2 separate regions of the Homo sapiens genome follow, and region 1 is linked to region 2. Evidence: fine-mapped expression QTL. A gene starts in region 2. The other region holds a variant in brackets. All regions are shown on one strand. Distances are between the middles of the regions.

Region 1 (5,395 bases), 33 kb before region 2:
GCTAAAAAGTTAAGCAAATTTATTTATTGCAGGGATTCTCAGAGGCTTGATTCTTCCAGCAGGGCATAGTAACAAGCATATGCAGTGCTGTATCTTATCATGAAATACTTTGAGACAAAAGGAATATTCTGGACCAACTCCCTCCTCTAGTTTTTAAGAATAGCATTCTGAAGTTCACAGAGATAGAGAGTTACTCATATGTAGACTTAGTAACACGTCAAGGCATAGAAACAAGTCTGTCAAATTTTGGAGAGTACTTTTTCAGGACTCCACTCTGTTACAGTTATATACTTGTGTTAGTTAAATAGTTATCATTTCTAGGATGCATTTGGGACAAACCAACATGAGCAGTTCTTATACATCCAATGAAACACTGTTGATAACCAAAGCCAACGGGATCAATTGCAAAACTCATACCACCATGAAGACATCATGTGATGCTGACCAATGAGAAAGTTGTGATTGGAACTGATCTCGAAACCACTATACTTGAAGACAGACTCAGGTCAACATTTTAGCATGCTCTGTATTATATTACTGCAGCACAAAGCTCTGCATGAAGGTCTTAATTTTCTATAGAAACTTCCTTTATGAGTACTACTCTATGCTTGTAATACATGGTTTGTGTGTACATAGACATTTACCTCACACACAGGATAGAGGGTAGAAGAGATAATGCACTGCAGATGGATGTTGGGAGTCAAGTAAATTGCCACCAATTAATTTATTTCTGATAAAGTGATTCTTTATGCCTTATCTATTAAAAACAAAGCAAAACAAAACAAAAACACCTCTCTGTGCCATTTCCCCCTAAGGAATAGAAAGTATTAATCTATGTATCTGAATAGCAACCACAGATCATTATTTAAGCATAAATTCCCTGCTGTAATTTGTGGTTTTGACCATTTTATACACAATGGAATTAATTTAATATTGGATAAAAGATACAGAGTAGTAAAAGGGATTGGAACCAAATAATTGCTGTTTTTAAAAAATTATGCAAGAGTTTTCTAGAGCCTTTGTTTTATAGTTTTTCAAAGCCAGCTATATTTGTGCCTGTTGGAAGAAGCTGACTCCTGCTGTGTGCAGCTTGGGTTGCAGAGGCAGCATATTCTGCTAGTATATTTTAGCTGTTTTTATGCTGAGATGAATAGGCTATTTGAAGTGAAAGGCGGACTGGTAGTTCCTATTGGAATGAAAGGATCATAAATCCATTCATGCCAAACTGAACACAGTTAGACAATGCACTGAAGGCAATTTTTATCTGGTAATTACTGTCTTTGTTCAGAAGCTTTGCCAATGCTAACTGATTGAAAAGATCCCAGAACAAATAGTGAAAGGACACAGCTCCTTCATTAGCCTAAACTGCATTTGAATCAAGCCTGCCTTTGATGACATTTTGTTTTTCTTTTTAAACAAAGAGTTAATGTGCTTTTTAATTTGTGTATTTAAATTCTAGGGAGATGGCAAAGGATCATTATCTCCCATCTTCCTAACCTTGCCTAGAGTAGGCCTTCTAAATGAGACCAACAGACTTTCCTATTTGAGAGCTTTGCATTTATGGCTGCTACCTGAAAGGGCAAGGGTCAGCAAGCGAGCCAGATGGCTGGAAATGCTCCTGAAGACTGGAGAGATGAATGAGCATATTAAAGACTCTCTATTGGATGGAGAGCAACTAACACCCAGATTAGCAAATTTCCTTTCTTTGGGGGTCATCTTGACTCTCTATTATCGTGGACATTGGCCCTTGCAATCAATTATCTTGGTCCTTCAGGATGCTAATGCTGACCTAACCTCTTTATGCTGAAAGAGTGAAAGAAATAAAGAAGAAAATAAGGGGGAAGGGGGGAAAGGGAGAAGGAAGGAAGGAAGGAAGGCAGGAAGGAAGGGAGGAAGGGAGGGAGGGAGAGAGGGAAGGAAGGAAAGAAACCGAGAATTACTCTGGTCACCCAAGACTTCCATGCAAAATTATAGGTAAAATAAAACCTTTTCTGTCTTGTTTGAAGATCCATTTTTCAATTCAAATAACATTTGTGAAATACTCTGTGTGTGCCCAAAGTTACTTCTAGGCTGTCTTTCTAATCTTGCCAATGATTTAATTGAGGCATGTGCTGCTTATGATGTGTTTCTGGTTGGCCTGGAAATATTGAAAGATGAAGATCGTAAACGAAAAGACATTCAGTGCAATACTGTTAATTGATACCTACTTGACGGCAGTCATTGGAGGTAGAAGATGAATAAGTCACAGCTCCTCCATTAAAGAGGCTGTTAAGTAAACAATATTGGTGCATGCTAATGGTCCAAATACTTATCTAGATACTCACAGAAGAGACAGGGAAGCAAAAGTCAACATAACATTTTAAAAATATGCTAAGGAATTAACCACTTAATAAAGTTTGTCCTCAATCAATATTGTGTGAGCATCTATGCTAGTCAATATTTAAACATGAAGACCTTAAATGAAAAGCCGTTAAATTCAGCTAATACTAATCAGTATCTACTTTATGGCAATCATTGGTGGTAGAAGATAAATAAGTCACAGCTTCTCCATTAAAGAGTTCATAGTCTAACAAAGGAGCTT[T/C]GTAAGTAACTGTGCCATTGAATGTGGCTGCTGTAAAATCTAATGATGCAATGAAAACAGTTGTTAAACTGAAATCACAAATGTTGCTAACATGAAGGAGTTCACAAAGCTGATGATGTTGGAGAATGGCTCAAATCATTGGCAAAGCCAAAATAAGAATCTGGTAAGGTTAATTTGGGAAAAAAAGAAACTTAACAAAGATGATGTCAGAAGATGGGAGTCAGAAAACAATTTGAATATCAAAGGCTTCGGAGAGGTCTGTGGGGAAACTGGTGAAACCTCAAACGTTTTTGTAAAGATGACCTTACTTATGACTGTGCGCGAAAGTCAACTGTGAAGACAGGGTGCACAAAACTATCATACGGTTTTGCCAGAACAACTGTGTCAAAAGAAAAATCAACACTTACGTCATTGTTGTTCATTTTAAGAGTTAGGATATGGCAATTATATCCTGAATTTTTCGCAAATAAGAAAATATAAATGTATTTTCCTACTTTTTAAAACAAATTGGTTTTCTTTTTAGAATAAAATCCTAATCTTTTTTTCCAGTACTTACTGTGACATTTGGTTTCTATTTTGGGTGGATTAATTTTTTTTATATTGCTCACCCATACCTCTAATTCAAGTACCAAAAATGTTAGCCTCTTCTTCACTTTAATTTTTCTTTCTAACTCCAGAAACTTTTTTCTTTGTACTCTTGAGTCTCCTTAAGTGTGCTTATGGTTGTTGCATTCATGTTGTCATATGCCTCTTTTGCTCTTGAGTATTCTGTCCTAACTGATATTTCTCTTCCTAGTTGCTGGGTCCTATGTGATGTGGTACTGTTTTTCTTTGCCGACCCGCTGGGAATGTTACAGGTGGTTTAATTTTAAATGGACTCTTGCAGAGACAAATTACGCTTGGGCAATGAAGGCTTTCCATATTTATGACACAATATGATAAGCATGTACATAGATAAGCAATTACAAACAAATAGAAAAATAGTCGAAACTGAAGGATTGTTCTTTTGAAATGCACTCAATGCATGTACATTTCCTACAGTATTTTACGGCAGTGCTCTTTTGAGTTAGATGTTCTCAGAGTCCAACCCTACGGGAAGAAGAATGTGATGATGAATCAATGGCAATGTCTGGCTACTGATATCTGAATTGGAGAGATAAATACCAGCTCATGTTGTCAGTCCAGGATGCTGGGATACCGTAAAACAGCCCAGATTTGCTTGCTGCCTCTCTGACTTCTGATTTGATCTTTGTTCTCAGGCTGCCCAGCCACATGATTTACCTTGGTCCTAGATCACCTCCAAGTTCACCAGGCCATACAGGGTCTTGAGGAATGCAGGTACCTAAACCCCTCCTCTCTTTTTGGGAGAATTGCCAAGTCAGGGAATGAGTGGAGTGTTTGCTAATAATTCCGGAAAGGCTTCTCTAGGTGCAAGTATTTGCATTCATTCCAGTTACTTTCCTTCATTTTTTAAGGCCCTTGATTCTGAGTATTGGCAAGGGTGTTATGCAAAGCTGTTGCTTTGGTGATGTTGGTTTGGACAATCACTTAAGTGCTGGTGTTCTATTCCTCACAATAAATGGAAGTGTGAACATTGCGATCTTGGGCTCCAGTGACCAAGAGGAGAGCAGACGCTCCTCTCCACAGGTTCCTATCAGAGATACTTAGAGCTTAGAGTTGGGGAAACTGACCCAGCAATATCACGCTGCCATTTGTAAGCTTTCAGATTCCCATCTCATTCCTTTTTTATTTTCCTGCTGCTAACTCTTAGATGTGCTATTCCAACTATTATGATGCTGTCAATAATTGGTAGTTTTAAGGCGTATTCATCCTGTAGCCCAATATTTCCAGCTTCCATTGTGGCCAATCATAGTACAGAGTTTCACTGCAAAAAGACTAATCTGACATCTAAAAAAGTATGGAAAATGTATACAACTTTACAGAAATCTCTTAGACTAAGGGGATTATGATTCATATCACACAGCCACATTTCTAAAAATCACTAGAACCATTAACCTCTACAGTGCCACTCAACACAGGGTGACAGCTCTCTAGTCTCCCATCTCTAGAAACTTTCCCAAACTCTTCCCTGAAGCTCACTCCTCCCTGCCTCTCCTCTGACTTGTAGCTTTTTCTTTTCAGGATTGTTTCTTCCTAAGAGCAGTTCCCTGCTTTTCCTAACATAAACCAGCCTAGCCTTTCCTTTCTCCTGACTTCCCTATTGCTACCCCTCGTCTTGTTCAACAAAAACTTGAAAACAGCATGTGCCTTGTAAGGCGAGGGGAAAACAAGAAAGGCTATGAATGCTCATTTACCTTCGTGGTACCTGAATGTTTGTGTACTTTGAATATTTTGTCCCTGTGAGAGTCCCTTATGAGAATTCTGCCACTACCTTGAGCAAAAATCCTTGTAAACTATTTTTCATATGACACTGAAAGTCCTCCTGAAGCTTCCCTTTAAAACAGGCTCAGCAAACATTTTCTGTAAAGAAGCAGATAGTAAATATTTTTTGTTTTTCAGGTTATAAGATCTCCGTTGTAACTACTGAACTCTTCCGTGGTAGCATGAGCGCCACCATAGGCAGTATGTAACCAAATGGTGGCTGTGTTTCAATACAACTTTATTTGCAAAAACAGGCTGGTGACCCCTGCTCTAAAACAGTGCTTCTCATTCTTGGCTGGCCATCAGTATTACCTGGGGAGCTTTTTCAAATCCTGAGGCCTAGGCCATACCTCAGACCAATTAAATTAGGAACTCTGGGGTGGGACCAGGTCATGCATATTTTAAAGTTCCTCAGGTGAGTCCAATGTGCGG
Region 2 (5,395 bases):
GATGGCCCAGAGGTGACAGCAACTTGTTGAAAGCTTTTTAAACCCTCATTTCTTTAACCTTTTTTCCATAACTATCTTAATCTACTACTACAGGTTAACCCCTTTAACTTCTATTTTCCAGCAGAATTATACTATACGGGTCTTGGTCTGACATATTTTCAATGGTGTTGAAATACAAAGCAGTGATTCTATACCCAGATGAACAATAGCTGTGAAATGGATCCTAGAAGAATGGTAAAATCAGAGGAGAATGGAAGGTCATGGGTTTCCCATTTGGCTGAATTAAAATTCAGACTAGGTTGCTTCCCTTCCCCTTTGTTGGAGACATTTATAGCTAGGGGTTTAAGACTGAGATCCAGGCTTCCTTAAAGAAAGTTTTATTTTGAATTTCAACAAAAAGCAAAGTGTATGATGGAGAGTCTGACCAACTGGATATATATTTCCACTTAAAGAAGCTCTTGTATTGATTTAAAGAAGCTCTCGAACGCTTGTTTTATTGCTTTTCAATTGGTCTCAGGTTTTCAATAAAGAAAATAGGAGGCCGGGTGTGGTGGCTCACGCCTGTAATCCCAGCACTTTGGGAGGCCGAGGCGGGTGGATCACGAGTTCAGGAGATTGAGACCATCCTGGTCAACACGGTGAAACCCCTTCTCTACTAAAATACAAAAATTTAGCTGGGCATGGTGGCGCGTGCCTGTAGTCCCAGCTACTCGGGAGGCTGAGGGAAAATTCGTGGTTTTGAGAATTGGTAAAGACTCTATCATTTCCTATCTGAACATTTAAAAAGAAATCATGGTAACATCAAGTGTTAGGGACACAACCATCACTTGTATCTATATGAAGATCAGGTAATCTGTGCTCTGGTTTAGGTCTCTCCATCATCATTTACCTCAAAACCAGCAATATCACATATTAATTACCGTAGATAGGCTCACCGTGATCTCTTGACACACCCTGGAAAACACATTGTGGGAAATGGGTTTGGTACTAGTCTAATTCTACTTGTACAGCTACAAATTCCCTTGGTTTCTTGAATCTTTTGGGGCCCACAAAAGCTAGATAAGGGCAGAACTACAAAGTCAAACTATAGGAAGAGGCACCGTCTACTCTTTGACAGATACCTCCAAAAATCCCATGGCCAATAATGTGGTGATGAGCAATATGATAAAATAGCAAGATACCTGCATATATGTCTATCAGTACAAGTGTTAAATACACATTATCTCAAAAGAAAAATACATTAAAAACTCATGGTTCCTGTTAGTAGTAGGGATAATTTAATTTTTAAACTGCATACATGCCATAAACAAGGTTTATGTAACGGCCTTGAAAACACCATTCATTACTTACATGACTGAAAAGACGAAGGCATCTAATGAGTTAGAGTCACACCATCTCATGCCTGTATACTATCAAACAACTTTTGGGAAGCCTGAAAAAGACAAACACAGTAACACTGTGTTAGAGGGACCATACTTGCTTACCTAAAAATCTGAAGAACAGGTGGTCTGTAGTGTGGTAAGACCCAATTTATCACTGACCTGGTTACTACCAAGAACACATAAATGACCACTGTTAGGTTCACTATGATTTCATGACTATGGGTACCTGAAGAAACACATTCAATGATGAATGTGTTTAATGAAACACGCTGTTTTACCTGCAAAAAAGGACGGGGCACCTGCAACTTGTATCAGTCATTTTCCTCATTAGAGGAACCACCAACACTACCTCGATCTTAGTAGAACTTTGAGATCAACACTAATGTTAGAGATACCATCATCGCTTGACTTAGAAATCTCATTGTTCATACTATAATGTGGAAGAGTAGGATAACTCACCTGGATACCGGCATAGCCCTCCTTAGAGACTAATGTTAAACACACATTATATCTCTTTTATTTTTTTAAGAGACAGGGTTTTGTCCTGTTACCCAAGTTGGAGTGCAGTGGTGTGATCACAGCTCACTTCAGCCTCAACCTCCTGGGCTCAAGTGATCCTCCCGCCTCAGCCTCCAGAGTAGCTCATACTATAGGCACATGCAACTATGCCCAGCTTGGTTAGATACTACACATTATATCTAAACTGTAAAATAATAAGGGCTAATGCTTACTAGCCTTGGTTGGGAAAACATCATTTCTTAACTGAATGCCTGCAAAAAAACCATGGTAACACAAAAGTTAGAAGCACCATCCACACTTAATTATAGATCTGATGATCAGATTGTTTTCTGAGTGCTTGCTTAAGGCCCACGTCATTACTTACCTGGATGCAAGCAAAGTCTCATTCTTGATCATGATGAGGTTTACCATGTCTTCTTGACAGGATCCTAAAAACACATTATGACAAATGTGTGTAGACACAGCTTTTTTCCTTGAACCCCACAATTAAGCTTATTCACTACCATCATTCCAAGAACCATCAAGTATACCTGGAATCTTGCAGTACTGCAAGGTCTATAGCACTGTTACAGATACCATTTTCTCTCTACTACTTACCTGCAAACAAACCCACAATTGCTACTATGACATGCAACTCCATGGTTAATTCCTTGGATAGCAAATAGCTCGCCAATCACAAAGTTAAACATAAATTTTCTCTAAAATATAAAACAGCAGGATAACATGGTTGCTGTAGTTAGTAAAGACTATCATTTCTTACTTGAGTACCTATGGAAAAAAATCACACAGTAAAAAAGTTTAGGTAAATGTATAACACTTACTTAGATATATGAAGATCTGGCCGGGCGTGGTGGTGCACGCCTGTAATTCCAGCACTTTGGGAGGCCAAGGTGGGTGGACTGCTTGAAGCCAGGAGTTCGAGACCAGCTTGGCCAACGTGCCAAAACCCCATCTCTCAAAATACAAAAATCAGCAGGATGTGGTGGTGCACACCTGTAATCCCAGCTATTCAGGATGCAGAGGCACGAGAATCGCTTGAACCTGGGAGGTGGAGGCTGCAGTGAGCCGAGATCACCCCACTGCACTCCAGCCTGGGTGACAAAGCGAGACTCTGTCAAAAAAAAAAAAAAAAAAGATATAAGAAGATCTGATGGTCTATGATGTGGTTAAAGAACACATCATCACTTGCCTGCATACCAGAAATGTCTGCCATACCAACCATTGTTAGGTTTATCAGGGTCTCACTACAGAAACCTGAAATACACATTGTGAAATATGTGTTAAAGGACACAAACATTTCCACCAAGACATCTGAAAATAACCTTCGTCACTCCATCATTACAGAACACATAAACTCTACCTGGATACTTGTAATAATGCAAGATCAATACCACTGTCAGGTAAGACGGTCATTTCTTGACAGGACACCTGTAAAAATCCCCTGGTTACTGCTGTGGTAAGAAACACCAATAACCAGGATAGGCACTATCACTCAAAACTCAGAGGTTAATCATAAAGTTATTCTAAAATATAAAAAGTGAGAAAAATAATGTTTTTTTAAATTGGTAAGAGCTCTATCATTTCTTACTTGAACAGCTACAACAAAATCATAGTAACAGAAGTGTTAGGGACACCACCACTTACCTATATAAGGGAAGATCAGATGGGCTGGGCTGTGTTTTAGGCCCACATTATCATGCACATCCATACGAGCAATGACCCCTGTTAACTATTACTGATAGGCTCACTGTGACCTCTTCAAATGAACCTAAAAAATATACTGTTGAAAATGTGTTTCCTAAATGTCTCATTCTACCTGTACACCTGCAAATTCCCTTCGTCTCTTTCATCATTTCAGGGCCTATCAAAGGTAACTGGATGCTTGCATAATGCCAAGGGAAAACACTCGTAAGAGAAACTTTCCTCTCTTGAAGTGATACCTACAAAAATCTCAGCATTACAGTGATGGACAATATGATAAATTACCTGGATACTCGCATATCCATATATCACTACAATTGATAAATACACATTATGTCTAAACAAGAACACAGTAAAATCTCACTCTTACTAGTAATGTTAGGGAAAAAGTAATTTCTTAACTGCATGCATGACAAACACAAGGTTACAAGAAGAGTCTCAAAAAAATCATTAATCACCTACATATCTGAAAATAGGAAGGTTGCTAATGTGTTAATATCACATAATCTTCTACCTGTATACTAGGAAAGAACTTAACAGGATACCTGCAGGAATACATGGTAGACAAGTGTTAAGGACACCATCCTCACTTACATGGAAATATAAAGATCTAATGGTCTGATTGTGGGAAACACACTTTCTCAATTAGCAGGTTACAGCACGGTTCCATTAATGACTATTGTTAAGCTTGATTGTGAGCTCATTACAGAAAACTAAAAAACACATTGCTCAAGTGTGTTTAAGGAAACAATTTGTTTTACATAAAAAAAGACAAGACACAAATAATTCTGGGCACTTCCATCAGCAGGGAACCTTCAACACTACTTGGATTTGCCATGACTTCAATGTCAACAATGTAGTGGCACCATCATCTCTTGATGATGTTGAAGTCTCATGGTCAATAACGTGGTGGGAAACAGTAGGAAAACTTACCTGGATACCTGCATATCCCTCCCTCACTATAAGACTAAACACATTATAACTAAACTCTAAAATAATGACTGATGCTTACCTGCGTTGGTTGGGAAAATATAATTCCTTAACTAAATACCTGCACAAAATATGGCAACACAAAAATTAGGAAAACCATCTACAGTTACCTACATTTCTGTAGATCACATTTTTGTAGGGTGTTTAAGGCCCACATCATAATTGGCTTGGATACCAGCAATGTCCCATTGTTGATCATGATGAGGTTTCCCATGACCCCTTGAGAGGAACCTGAAACCACATTATGACAAATGTGTCTGTGGACACAACTCTTCCACCAGAACCCTGCAAATAACTTGTTGGCTGTCATCATTGCAGAAGACATAAATCTACATGGAATTTTGCAGTATTCCCAAGGTCTACAACCTTGAAGGACACACCATTTTTTCTTGACTACCTATCTGCAAGGATACCACAGTTACTACTATGAAGCACACCACGTTGTTATCTGTGTACACGCAAATCATTTGATACTCACAGCGTAAACCATAAGTTTTCTCTAAATTAAAAACAATATAACATGGTCACTAGAACTAGAAATACTGTCATTACTTACAAAAATCACTGTTATAAAAGCACATGATAAACAGTTCACGTAAACAGACATCACTTACCTAGATATATGAAGATCAAATGGTCTGTGATGGGGTTAAAGTGAACATCATTACTTACCACAGATACCAGAAATGTGGCCTGATAATGACCCCTGTTCATTGGGATTTCTTCCAGGAATCTGAAAAACATATTATGACATATGTGTAAAAAACACGTAACATGTTCTAGCAGTACAACTTGCTAATAGC

Alleles and levels. Alleles are on the strand shown, and positions count from the first base shown. SD is a standard deviation of normalised expression in the study named.
As copies of C replace T in region 1, the expression in spinal cord of the gene that starts at base 2,570 in region 2 goes up (moderate effect, 0.70 SD a copy in GTEx).

The links. PIP is the estimated chance that this variant, and not a neighbour inherited with it, causes the effect. A credible set is the group of variants that fine-mapping cannot tell apart.
Region 1: its variant is the best candidate, but not a certain one, in a credible set for the expression of LINC01203 in spinal cord (GTEx, PIP 0.61).

Annotation. Positions count from the first base shown.
Region 1 is chrX:13,365,641-13,371,035 of GRCh38, reverse strand. No RefSeq gene overlaps it. Among named protein-coding and RNA genes, the nearest start is that of LINC01203, 33 kb to the right of the region's middle. The variant T/C (reference allele first, on the strand shown) is at 2,582.
Region 2 is chrX:13,332,416-13,337,810 of GRCh38, reverse strand. LINC01203 (long intergenic non-protein coding RNA 1203) reads right to left here and starts at 2,570. Exons shown (of 7, transcript NR_045260.1): 1 at 2,499-2,570; 2 at 2,266-2,329; 3 at 2,114-2,152; 4 at 1,351-1,432.